Homo sapiens: one gene and its partner. The protein of the gene in region 2 interacts with the protein of the main gene of each other region in a biochemical or structural test. Each region holds a gene or a part of one and is shown on either strand. Other genes may lie near its edges.

The links. The genes of interacting proteins can lie anywhere in the genome.
Region 1: the proteins of CEP20 (region 2) and S100A11 form a complex in vitro, tested with the Homo sapiens proteins (one study listed by BioGRID).

The regions. Positions count from the first base shown.
Region 1 is NC_000001.11:152,033,997-152,041,101, reverse strand, and holds the start of S100A11 (protein S100-A11), read left to right. Parts: upstream 1-4,097; 5' UTR 4,098-4,186; coding exon 4,187-4,189; intron 4,190-7,105. UniProt on the Homo sapiens protein: Facilitates the differentiation and the cornification of keratinocytes.
Region 2 is NC_000016.10:15,878,590-15,885,612, forward strand, and holds part of CEP20 (centrosomal protein 20), read right to left. Parts: intron 5,617-7,023; coding exon 5,419-5,616; intron 4,460-5,418; exon of another isoform or gene 4,432-4,459; coding exon of another isoform or gene 4,360-4,431; intron 1,300-4,359; coding exon 1,215-1,299; intron 1-1,214. UniProt on the Homo sapiens protein: Involved in the biogenesis of cilia. Required for the recruitment of PLK1 to centrosomes and S phase progression.

The sequences.
Region 1 (7,105 bases), on a different chromosome or scaffold from region 2:
TAATATTCTTTGCCTCTAGTCTTTCTTCTTTCTAGAACATGTTTTCTACAGTTCCAAAAGTGAAGGGGATCACGTCACTGTCCTGCTTAAAAATCTTCAATGTTCCTTGATACATAACCCTAAGGTTACAATCCAAACTTCCAAGTATATCTCCTAATGAGCTGACCCTTGTCTCTCCCATCTCACATCCCACAGCTTCTGCCTCACATTTACCATCACCCCATACCCTAAGTCTGGTTCTACTGAACCACCTGCAAGTACTGAGAACACGAACAATGTTTCATCCCGAACCTTAATTCTGCACAAGCCACTATGTAAAACTTCCTCTGAAGACACTGCTGTAAGTCCTAAGCATTAAACATGAATTAACTCTTAATCCTCACAACAACTACTATTCTCTCCACTTTACAGATGAGGAAACTGAGACACAGAGCCAACAAATAACTTGCTAGATTTCATATAGCTAATACGTTGTGACACTGGGATTTGAACCCCAGTCTTGTGGCAGAGCCTGTGGCTGTAAATACTGTGCTATCTTGCCTGAGTTCACCTTTTTTCACTACCATGTTCATCCACCTGGTGAATTCTTATTTATATTTCAATACCCACCTCAAGCAGCACTTTTCCAGGATACTTTCCCTCCTCTCCCAGAGTTAACCTCTCATTTCTTTCCTGGCATTTGTCATTGTGTCTTGGTCACACCCCTGTTATTGCATTTGTCACTGTACTGTGTCCATTTCAGAATCAACCCAATGCTACACAGAGATCAGACTGCACATAAGAATTACCTTGAGCCATGGAAGTTCCTACATTTATTTCCTGATAAGCCCTTTTACCCATCTGTATATTATTTTTGTCTCTTGCTGTCAGTTTACCAGCTCTCACTCATCCTCAGCTCCTTGCTGGCTCCAGCCCTTCAGTTTGATTCATTGTTTGCCTGCTTTGACAAATCTACCTTGCCTGCTACCTTTCCTGAACTCTCCCTCCTTTGACTGATAACCTAGAAATGAACCCCTTTCAGCGTGACCCTGGGGAGCAGCTGTCAAGCAGGCAGCCCTAACTGGGTGGGGCTGATCCCCCAACCTGGCTCTGAACAAGTCATACTTATTTGGTTTAGCTTTTTCCTTTGGTTTCATTCAAGCTACTTCATGGGGCTGAAGAGTTATTGAAAGAATAAATGTCATAGAGAAAGTAAGAAAAACTAACAACTAGGTTTAGGAAGAACAAAAACGCTAATGAAGTCAGACTGCAGGCTCTTCACTCCCAGTGGTTCACCATTTTCACAATTCAGCGAACACCCAAGTAGCCTTTTCTTTAATTTACAGTTAGCAATTGGCTTACATTCCCCTCTGTCTATTTCTTCCAAATTTCATAGCTTCCACTTACTCATGATGTCTTCTCCATAAGTTTTATTTGCCATGACTTCATGGTTCTGTCTATGCAAATGTTCAGCTTCAGCTCTTCTAAATGCCTAATTTTCTATGTGCTTCTAATTTCAGTTTCCCAAAAACAAGAAGCTTTTTGGCCCTAGTTCATCTTTCCATGTTATGTCATGAAACATCCACTACCAGCCATCCTATAGATTGGCAGTGCTGGTGTCCAGACTAACTTCAACCCAGTCCACTCTAACAGGGTCACAGTGTGTCAAATCATGCAAAACTTGGCCACCTGGGCTGCCCCTTGAGCACAGGTTCTAAGTGAGGCATTTTCTCTTAAAAAGAACTATAGTGGCCGGGCGCAGTGGCTCTCACCTGTAATCCCAGCACTTTGGGAGGCTGAGGAGGGCAGATCACGAGGTCAGGAGTTCCAGACCAGCATAACCAACATGGTGAAACCCCGTCTCTACTAAAAATACACAAAAAATTAGCAGGGTGTGGTGGCGCACACCTGTAATTCCAGCTACTCAGGAGGCTGAGGCAGGAGAATCGCTTTAACCCGGGAGGCGGAGGTTGCAGTGAGCTGAGATCACCCCGTTGCACTCCAGCCGCCTAGGCAACAAGAGTGAAACAACGTCTCAAAAAAGAAAAAAAAGAAAAGAACTGTGGTGTGTAAGGCCTCATGATTGAGTTATGGAGTAATTTAGACAAATGATTCCTTAATATGTTGGGATCATAAATTTTTCTGAGAATCAGATGAAAGATGTGGACTCTTCGCCAGAAAAATTTCTCTTATGCAAAAAATTTACATGTAACTTTAAGGTATTAAGGAACCCCAGCAGCCGTTCATGTAACACCCCCCACCACCAAAGGTTTGAAGTCTATTACCTGGCACTTGATAAGAACTGTGAGTCAAAAAGGCATTTAGACTCAGTGGCTCCAATGCTTTCAAGCAGGGAAAATGGTAGAGTGATAGTACCCTTAGCAGAGAAGACAGAAACAGGTTTGGGGAAAACTAGTTATTCCTGAATTATTGAGTCTGAAGTGCAGGTGGGACTCTCAAGTGGATTCATAAACAAGTAACTGAAAATGTGGGTCTGGAGTAGCTGAGAACTGAGATGGAGATTTGTCTCACGTGCTCAGGGCACCTGTGAGAGCAGGTGCAGGGAAGCAGTTCACACAATGCCTATAGCCCATTATCTTTCATTTGCGTCTACTCTGCAGTTTTTGGAGACCTTTCTAAGCCCTCACTTTACTTGACAGTCCTAACAATCTTATGAAACAGGAAAGGCCTATCTCAAGACCTATTACAAATAAGGAAGTGGAAGCTCAAAGGAGTGACAAGTCTGGTCAAAAGTATTGCAATGAAGTAACAGACACAAGACTGGAACCCAAGTCTTCTGATTCTTAATACAACTCCTAATTTCATTGCAAACTGCACACAGATAAATGCCTTACTAGCACGGATCAATTTTTAAGTGCAGTAGTTTGGTTTTCGGATTTTGTCTTTGTGGCTGTCCTCAGTTTACAGAAAAGTTTGAGAGAGAGGGGTGGCAATTGTCCCTTGACAATAATCCCCAGTAATCCCGTGGCAATTGATTTGGCAATACTCACCACTGTTTACTGTTAAATATCTTCCCTGTGGAGCAATAGAGAGCCCCAACTCCTAGGAACTTGTCTACAATTCTGACCCGCACTCTGTCCTAACTAACACTCTTGGTTTTGTTTTTTGTTTGTTTGTTTTTGAGATGGAGTCTTGCTCTGTCGCCCAGGCTAGAGTGCAGTGGCGCGATCTCGGCTCACTGCAAGCTCTGCCTCCGGGGTTCACGCCATTCTCCTGCCTCAGCCTCCCGAGTAGCTGGAACTACAGGCGCCCGCCACCACGTCCGGCTAATTTTTTGTATTTTTAGTAGAGACGGGGTTTTGCCGCGTTAGCCAGGATGGTCCCGATCTCCTGACCTCGTGATCCACCCGCCTCGGCCTCCCAAAGTGCTGGGATTACAGGAGTGAGCCGCTGCGCCCGGCCTGTTTTTGTTTGTTTTTTGAGACATTGTTCCGCTCTTGTTGCCCAGGCGGCTGGAGTGCAACGGCGCGATCTCAGCTCGCTGCAAACTCCACCTCCCGGGTTCAATCGATATTTCTGCCTCAGCCTCCCAAGTAGTTGGTATTACAGGCGTGTGCCACCACGCCAGGCTAATTTTGTATTTTTAGTAGAGACAGGGGTTTCACCATGTTAGTCAGGCTGATCTCAAACTCCTGACCTCATGTGATCTACCCGCCTCGGCCTCCCAAAGTGCTGGGATTACAGGCCTGAGCCACCGCGCCCGGCCCACTGCTGTTTCCAAAAGAGACCTTTTTTGCCTATCTAACCTAAATGCCCAGAATGAGCTCATACATGGGAAAGACCCACGGACATGGACAGACTTCCCGAAGACTACTGTGCAAAACTTATAATTCTAAAAAGTCAAAAATCTTCAGGAATCACAGGACGGGGTGGAGGGGGCCGGGGGGAAAGAGGAGGGAAAAGAGGGAAAGGAGGGAGAGTGAGACTGCTTAAATCGCTGGAGAGGACGGTGGGTTTATTTGAGTCTTAAAGCTCAGTTCTGTGGTTAGCGCCGGCCGCGGTCCCAGGCCCAGCCCGGGAGGCGGGGAGGGGCGGGGCAGGCGCGGAAGCTGTCTGAGTAAGGCTTGGGCAAGGCTGGGCCGGGAAGGGCGTGGGTTGAGGAGAGGCTCCAGACCCGCACGCCGCGCGCACAGAGCTCTCAGCGCCGCTCCCAGCCACAGCCTCCCGCGCCTCGCTCAGCTCCAACATGGTAAGCCTCACTTTTCTTCTTCTTCTTCTTACATGAAAAGAAAAAGAAAAGAAAAAAAACCCACATACTTCCCAGCAGACTTTATCTTTGACTTATGTGTGGACGTGGCAGGAAACAGCAGGAAAAATCAGCCTCGTGGGAGGGAACTGGGGAAGAAGGGATGGAAGGATGAAGCCCTAAAATCATCCTTGGGGTGGCCGCCTAGGGTAGCAGCGGAGGTTCTTTAGCCTTCCCAGTCACGACAAGGCCCAGGGCTGGGGAAGAGGAAGTGCTGGCCGCTCACCGCGCGGGGGGGGGACCCGTCGTGGGTCACTGCCTCCAGCCCCTCGCCCGCGGTCTCCCGGGAGCCCAGAGACGCCTAGGAGCAAGTTTAAGGCAGGGGGCTGGAAAGCTGCGAGGGGTCACTAGTTATTTCTGTACACCAGAAAAGGGACATTTTAGAACTTGGTCGTCTAGCCCCAGGGAAAATCAAAGTTTCAGTAAGCACCCGGCAGACGGCCAAGACCCAACGGGACTGAAACTTTAGCCCGTCGCCGCCCGCAGCGCCGCGGCCAAGAATGTGGGAGGAACCCGGTCCCAGCTGAGCCCTCTCCTCCTTCCTCTTCCTTTTACCCCACCATCTATTTAGGCACTCACTCCGTAACTTATTTTTCTCTTCTTATCTCCTTTCATCTCCCAGTTGAACTCATATTTTCCATAATTCCACCTCCAAAATCTCTTTCTTTACCTCTCCTTAGTGGAGAGTCAGCAAACTGGCCCGCGGGCCAAGTCGGGTTTTCTGTTCTGCCCACAAGCTAAGAATAAAGTTTACATTTGTAAATGATTGAAAGAAATCAAAAGAAGAAAAATACTTTCTGACATGTGAAAATTATGTGGAAATCAAACTTCAGCGTCCATAAATGAAGTATTGGAACAGAGCCACGCCCATTCCCTTCCATACTGTCTGGGGTTGCAGTCCTGCTACAGCAGGGACAGAAAGCTCCGGAGGGTGTTGGTTAAGAATGAGAAGACAATAGTTGAGGTTTTTAAAATTGCTACGTCTTTTTCATCGTATTTTTTTCTTTCCTCAAATGTTGAGCGCTTAGCATGCATTTTTAAAAATTATTTCACAGTATCCGTTTATCATAATGTTTGCTCCTTGCTATCGCCATCCCCACCAAGTAAGACTCCAAGAGTGCCATGAGGTGTGGAGAGCGCCGGTTCTCCTCTCCTTCAGCCACTGCGCCACCCTGGGCAGAGCTTTCCGGTTTCTGGGCGTCCTCAGGACCCATCTCCAAAGTGCCCTGGAGCTCTACAAATTATGCCGTTCCATTTTAGTAATTTGATAATTGTGTCTCTTTCTTTCACTTTGGAGAATTACCTCTGGGAGGAAATGCAAAGAGGTTTTAATTTTCTCCTTGTGGCTGATAGCAACAGCAACAGTTTTCAAAAGAAAATAATCTCTAAATTACACCAAGACTGATGTTAAGGAGAGAAAAATGTGAAGCAGAAAGGCACTGTGAAACTGGAAAAGCAAAACTGTCTGCATTCTGGAAGGAAAAGGGGCAGGGGGAGAATCTGTAGTTCCAGAGAAAGGTGACAAAGCCCATGCTCCTCAGCCTGGTGTGGCCTCCCAGCCAGTCTCCTTCCTGTCATCTGATACCTTAGTAAGACAGGGAGATTTTAGGCCTGATATGAAGGGCATGTTGTAACAGAACAAACACATCTGTTTCTAGGCTGTGGTATTTTGTTTCTCCCCTAAAGGCCCCTGAACCTACCAACACTTTTCTTAATGAAAAGTTCAATTTAGAGCAAAACAAAAACAATCATCCTCCAACAATGTGATTCTTGGGAAAAAGTCCACCTCTCTTAGGGTTCAGGGGTTCTAACGCTGTAAGATGCAATGGGAGGCAAGACTCAGCTAGGATCTCTGCAGCATAAAGGCTGTACAGGAAGGAGGAATCAATCTGCAGCTGTGTAGCTAAGGGCTCAGATCAGTTCTTAGCACGTGTTAATTACGGAGTGAGAAAGCCTCTAGCTCTGGCCTCCAGGAAGTCCATCCTAAGAACAAACGAAAGGCTAAATGCTAAGTTGCAAATGTCACCATCCAAACATAAATCATTGTTAACGCTAGTAGGTAAAGTCTCAGAGGAAGGGTGTGGCCAGGCCGGTTTCCCAGAAAGTCTGTAATTGCGGCTTCTACCCACCAGAGGGAGGCCAACAGCTCCTCACTTTTGGGACCCTAAGTCCCCTTGGGGAACCGGATGACTGGGCCCTATAGAATTTCCTTGAAAAATTCTGCTGTGAGGAAAGAGCCCAGTACAGGATTTAAATCTCTTACATTGTAGATGCTGTGTAAGCAGCAACCTGAGAGCTTCCTGGTTTGGAGTGACCTCCAGAGAAGCTCCACCTTCTCTGTCACTATTTCCCACCAGGAAGTGGAAGCCTGCAAGGCTAAGGACTGCAGAAAGGGACTGGGAGGCCCAGATTCCAGGGCTGGCTCTGCCATATCCATTCCCTTCTCCTGTCCGTTTCCTCACATCTAAGATTAATGGTTCCTAACTCTTAAATATGAAAGCCATTTTCAAACATCTAAAAAGTTCTATCTCCCACTGCATACACAATGATAGCTATGCTTTTAGTTTTCTCTAAGGAAATGTGTGAGTCCCAGGAATTCGGTATTGCTTTAAAAAGAACTGACATTTCATTAATCACAAAAGCCTCCATACACTCTTGGAAAATAAGAAATTATTAACCTATAGACAATGTTTGGTGTGCATATGGATTTGTGGATATAGAGTTACACATGTATTTATCCACACATTTTAAAAATATGAGTAAACCTTGTCACCGTCACTCTCATCTAGGCAGTCTACTGCTTTTAAACGTGCCAGCAATGCTCCACATTTACCTTCCATATATTTCACCTGGAATAAA
Region 2 (7,023 bases):
AGGTTAAAGCGATTCTCATGCCTGAGCCTCCCTAGCAGCTGGGACTACAGGCACACGCCACCATGCCTTGCTAATCTTTTTGTTATTTTTAGTAGAGATGGGGTTTCGCCATGTTGACCAGGCTGGTCTCAAACTCCTGACCTCAGGTGATCCACTTGCCTCAGCCTCTGAAGTGCTGGGACTACAGGCATGAGCCACCACGTCTGGCTAGAGATGGGGTTTCCCCATGTTGTCCAGGCTAGTCTTGAACTCCTGAGCTCAAGTGATCCTTCCACTTCAGCCTTCCAAAGTGCTGGCATTACAGGCACGAGATACCTCACTTGGCCTTAAGAACTTTTAGGATGAGAAAACGTAAGGCTTCAAAGAAAGTTCTAGATTTAAAAAAAGGCTGCTTTAAGCTATGTTCTCAGGTCTCCTATGTACTTTTTTTTTTTTTTTTGGCTATACAGGGACTCTCCAGAAAAAGTTTAAGAAACACTGAAATAGAAAAAAACTAAGAAAACTAGAAAGTGGTCATCCTCCTTTTCAAGAGCATAGTTGGTGAGAGGAGGTACACAGAGGGCAAAGGACAGAGTAATAGTAACGAAAGCAGTGGGCTGATTCAGTAATCTTGGTAGAAAAAGGTATTCGAGCAGAAGCTTGGGGTTGGAAGTTCATAGTTTTTGTTTTTGTTTTTGTTTTTGTTTTAGGAGAGGAGAGATCTGAGTACATTCCTAAGTTGGAGTGAAGGAAGAGTTAAATATGAAGAAAACAACTGACAAGGCAAAGTCTCAGAGGCCAGGCATGGAGGGCTCACACCTGCAACCCTAGCACTTTGGGAGGCCAAGGCAGGAAGATCACTTGAGGTCAGGAGTTCGAGACCAGCCTGGGCAAAAAAGCGAGGCCTTGCCTCTACAAAAATAATTTGAAAATACAAATAAAAGTTGAAATTATAAATTAAAAAACAAACAAAGCCTTAGAAGGACAAAGGATCAAGAAGTCAAAAGGAGCTAACTCCAGAAAGAAGATGCTGAGTCACTCTGAAGCCATGTAATTGTAGCTTCAGCAAACACAGATCTCATCTGACTTATTCACTGCTGCACACCCTGGATTTAGGACAATGCTTGACACACACTAGATCTGAATAAATACTTGAATTAAAATGAAGTAAAACCACCATGGTGCAATTATGACTCAATACAATATGTGGAAACTTCTTTAAAAAAATGTCTTACATTGTATTATCCTTTGATTCTTCAAATGCATTTAGTTCATGGATGAGAAACTGTCTGTCCAACGGAACTACAGGTTGACCAGATTCTGGGAGAAATAAATTCATGAGAACACTCAGTCTATTAAACTAAAAAGCAAATAAGATTTTGAAAAGAATCACATTTACCAGACATACACTTTTTAGATTTTGGAAGAATGATGACAACACACACCAAGACAGATCAAATTGCCTGTGATTTTATGACTTTCAAAATATCTCTTTTGTTAAATGCATGTCTTAATACAGTTTAACATAAATTCACTTTTTAAATTCCCCAGTGTTTGGTTGGAAAAATACCATTTCTATATCCAAATTATAATACTAAATTTTGGAAGTCTGTTTATCAATAACTTATTTTTGAAAAGAATATCCACTTGGTGACAATACTTATAAATAAAAATTAAAGTTAACCTGAAGTGTGGGGCAGCTGGAACTTTCACACTTTGCTGGTGGGAAAGCACAATGGTACAGGCACTTTGGAAAACAGTTGAGCAGTTTTCTTATAAAGGTGAGCGTGCACTTAACCACACAACCCAGCAATCTCACTCTTAGCTTTCTACCCAAGATTAATGAAAACTTATGTTCTCACAAAAACCTGTATGTAAATGTTTATGGCAGCTTGATTCCTAACTGCTAAAACTAGAAACAACTCAATGCCCATCAACTGGTCATAGATGAGCAAACTAGCACAGCCACACAATAGAACAGTGTTCAAAGGAAAAACAAACATGGCTGAATCTTGAATGTATTACACTAAGTGAAAAAAGGCAGACTCAAAAGGCTACATCATGTACGGTTCCATCTACAGCAAGGGTCCCCAACCCCCGAGCCACAGATTAGAAACTGGGCCACACAGCAGGAGGTGAGGAGTGGGCAAGCAAGTGAGGGAAGCTTGATCTGTGTTTACAGCTGCTGCCCATCACTAGCATCACTGCCTGAGCTCAGCCTCCTGTTGGCAGAATTAGATTCTCATAGAAGCGTGAACCCTATTGTGAACTGCACATGCGAGGGATCTGGGCTGTGCACTCCTTATGAGAATCTAAGGCCTGATGATCTCTCACTGCCTCCCATCACCCCCAGATGGGACCATCTAGTTGCAGGAAAACAGGCTTAGGGCTCCCACTGATTCTACATTATGGTGAGTTATAATTATTTCATTATATATTACAACACAATCATAGAAATAAAATGCACAATAAATGGAGTATGCTTGAATCATCCCGAACCATCCTCCCAGGTCCATGGAAAAATTGTCTTCCATGAAACCAGTCCCTGGTGCCAAAAAGGCTGGTGATATCTTGATTGTGATCTGGTAGTAATTACACAACTGCAGGCATTTGACTAAAGTACAGAACTGTACAGTTTAAAAGGTAAATTTTATTGTATGTAAATTATATCCCAGTTTTTTAAAAAAAGCCAAACCATTTAATATGAAAACTTGACTACTGTCACTATATTTCATTCTAGTGAATCCCAAGTCCCCACTATTTTCATAATTTCTTCTTTTCTGGGTGTAACTGGTATCATACAGCCATCTATAACAAACAAAGGAAAGCAGAGATGCTGATATCAAAGATCCTTAAACCATAAAAATCATGAGTCTTTATGTAGTTCAGACGTATGTTTAATATTAAATAAAGGATCTGTAACGAAAAATTCTAACTTCACAAAGAATTCATTCTCTCTTGCAAAATCTACTTCCTGGCCTCGCTTCTTTGCTGAGGCATGAAGTAGTCAAAGCAGAGATGGAACCTGAAACGAGGGAATCCGATGACACACATTCAGGGTGCCTCAGACCAACCCCCAGCTGCATCCCCCACCCCACCAAGTCCAGGGGTAACCAGGATTCTGACTTATTTATATCCATCCAGTCTCTCCTCACTTTTTTGAAAGAAGACATTTAAAAGTCAGCAGAAGATATTAAAAATATTCTCACCACTCAATAACTGTTACACTTGAAGAGCAAATTTATTTCTCAAGAAATAAAATTCAACAGATAAAGGGAATTTATCTTTATCTCCCCACCCCCAACCCCCAATATCATTCTCTGCCTCCTATCACTAGGATGAGTTTGGAGTTTCCCGCTGCTAGAGTCTGGATATTTGTCTCCGCCCAAATCTCATGTTGCAACGCACTCCCCAGTGTTGGAAGTGGGACCTGGCGGGAGTTGTTTGGGTCATGGGGGTGGATCCCTCATGGCCTGGTGCTGTCCTTACCACAGTGAGTGGGTTCTCATGAGAACAGGTCATTTATAAGTGTGTGGCACTAACCTTCCCCACCCTTGGCCCCTGCCTTCACCATGTAACGTGCTTGCTGCAGTGAGCAAAAGCTCCCTGAGGCCTCCCAGAAGCTAAGCAGATGCCAGTGCCATGCTTGTACAGTCTGCAGAACCGTGAGCCAAGTAAACCTCTTTTCTTCAACCGGGTGCGGTGGCTCACGCCTGTAATCCCAACATTTTGGGAGGCCGAGGAGGGCGGATCACGAGGTCAGGAGACTGAGACCATCCTGGCTAACGGTGAAACCCTGTCTCTACTAAAAATACAAAAAATTAGCTGGGCATGGCCTGTAGTCCCAGCTACTTGGGAGGCTGAGGCAGGAGAATCACTTGAACCCAGGAGGTAGACGTTGCAGTGAGCCGAGATCAATCCACACTCCAGCCTGGGTGACAGAGCAAGACTCTGTCTCAAAACAAACAAACAAACAAACAAACATACAAAAAAACCTCTTCTCTTCATAAATTACCCAGTCTCAGGTGTTTATTTATAGCAATCCAAAAACAACCTAATATACCAGCCTAGTCCTTTATAAATACCATGCTTTTAGATACATACATTTGTAAATGTACCTAAGCACTACATAGTAGTAATATTTCAAAGTTTTATCTCCATTATATCTATCTATCTATCTATCTATCTATCTATCTATCTATCTATCTATCTAGATACACACACACACACACACAAATAGACATATATCTACATATCTATATATAGACAGGGACAGTTTTTTTTCTTTTAAGAGACAGGAGTTGGACCAGCCTGTCCAATATAGTGAAACCCCGTCTCTACTAAAAAATACAAAAATTCGCCGGGCCTGGCAGCACACACCTGTAGTTCCAGGTACTCGGGAGGCTGAGGCAGGAGAACTGCTTGAACCCAGGAGGCGGAGGATGCAGTGAGCTGAGATCACAATAGAGTGAGACTCCGTCTCAAAAAAAAAGAAAGAAAAAAAAGACAGGGGTTGGGTGCAGTGGCTCATGCCTGTAATCCCAGCATTTGGGGAGTGTGAGATAGGTGGATCACCTGAGCCCAGGAGTTCAATACCAGGCTGGGCAACATAGTGAGAGCTCATCTCTATAAATAATAAAAAAATTTAGCTGGGCATGGAGGCATGCACCTGTGGTCCCAGCTACTCAGGAGACTGACGCAGGAAGACTGCTTGAGCCCAGGAGGTGAAAGTTGCAATAAGCCATGATCGCACCACTGCAGTCCAGCCTTTGCAACAGAGTGAGATTCTGTCTCTGGAAAAAGAAAAAAGAGACAGGGTCTCTCTCTGTTGCCCAGACTGGAGTGCAGTGATGCGATCATGGCTCACTAAAGCCCAGAGCACATGGGCTCACATGATCACCCCCTCCCCGACCCCTGCTCAGCCTCAGCTAGGACAACAGACACGTGCCACCATGCATGGCTAATTTTAAAAACTCTTTTCCAGAGATGGGGTCTCCCTGTGTTGCCCAGGCTGGTCGCGAACTCCTGGGCTCAAGTAATCTTGCCTCGGCCTCCCAAAGCACTGAGATTACAGGTGTGAGCCACCTACCCAGCCTATTTTTTAACAAATAATATACTTAATCAGCGTATATTTTTAAAGCTTAATACACAGGAAAAAACTGGTGGCAAACAGGACAAAACGTCAACAATTGTTTATTCTCGGTTACAGGAATTATAGATGATTTTTCCAAGTATATGCCTAGTTTAAGTGATTATTTAGTTATGTATTTTCTCTTGTAAGAATCTGTTTAAGCTACAGAAAGAACCCATGTGATTTTTGTGTCCCAGTCACCCAGATGGCACTATCTGGTAAGGGAATTAGATTTCTAGGATAAACAGTTTCTGAGAATTGGGGAAAGGGGAGAAACAGATTTTATGTGATAAATAATAACCACTTACCTGCTATGAGGACAGATGCTGTATACTTATATTTGTTGAATTCTAAATACTCTCGAATTAATTCATTAATTAGAAGGTTTTCATGAGACAATGATGGTCGGGGTTCACGGTCATCATCTAGGGCATTGAAAACTTCAGCTCGGATCCTTGCTTTTAAATGCCCTAATACCCCCTTTTTTTCCAAGGTGTCCTTTAAAACTGTTCGATATAAAATATTAAGGCTTCAGTTACAGAGTAAATTTGTCATTCTTAGGCATACTTTGAAAAGAAATGTTGAAAAGGTAAATGGTACAAAAACAGCTCTCAAGCAGCTCTTAATCTAAACATTGTGACAAATTATTAAACAATTACACTACCACCAGCCATGTTTATACTAAAACATATAGTTCTCATGTTGCAGTGATTTAGTCTTAATATATTTGAGCAAATTCAAGTTTATTCCTACATCATCAGCACTGTCAGGGGCTGTAGTCTAATACATATTCTTTTTTATTTTATTTATTATTTTTTTTGAGACACAGTCTCGCTCTTTCACCCAGGCTGGAGTGCAGTGGCACGATCTCAGCTCACTGCAACCTCTGCCTCCCAGGTTCAAGCAATTCTCCTGCCTCAGCCTCCAGGGTAGTTGGGACTACAGGCACGTGCCACCACGCCCAACTATTTCTTTTTTGTATTTTTAGTAGAGACGGGGTTTCACTGTGTTGGCCAGGATGGTCTCAATCTCCTGACCTCGTGATCCACCCACCTCAGCCTCCCAAAGTGTTGGGATTACAGGTGTCAGCCACCGTGCCCGGCCAATACATAATTCTTTAGTGAGGGGAAAAGGCGGGGGATAGGATTATAGTTGCTTACTGAGACCTGAACTTAAGCCCCAGTCTCTCATATATTTTCAAGAGTGTCTGCCACTGCACACAGGTTCTGCTTGTCACTAACAACCTCTGGTCTAGAAAGATGATTAAAGAAAACAACTACATTCCATAAAAGAAGTCTGTTGGGTTACTGTGTAAAAACCTTGATGGCAGGGCATGGTGGCTCATGCCTGTAACCCAGCACTTTGGGAGGCTCAGGCGGGCGGATCACGAGATCAGCAAATTGAGACCATCTTGGCTAACAAGGTGAAATCCCCCTCTCTACTAAAAAAATACAAAAAATTAGCCGGGTGTGGTGGCACGCACCTGTAGTCCCAGCAACTTGGGAGGCTGAGGCACAAGAATTACTTGAACCTGGGAGGTGGAGGGTGCAGTGAGCTGAGGTGGTGCCACTGCACTCTAGCCTGGGCGAAAGAGTGAGACTCTGTTTAAAACAACCAACCAACCAACCAACCAAAAAAAAAAACACAAACCTTTGATAATCCACAACGCTTTAGGGAGTGAAAAGGTGTTGGGTTTTTCATTGTTGTTATTTTGAAACAATCTCGCTCTGTCGCCAGGTTGGAGTGCAGTGGCACGATCTCGGCTCACTGCAATCTCCAGGCTCCCTGGTTCAAGCAATTCTCCTGCCTCAGCCTCCCAAATAGCTGGGATTACAGGTGTGCGATACCACGACTGGCTAATTTTTGTATTTTTAGTAGAGACAGGGTTTCACTATGTTGGCCAGGATGGTCTC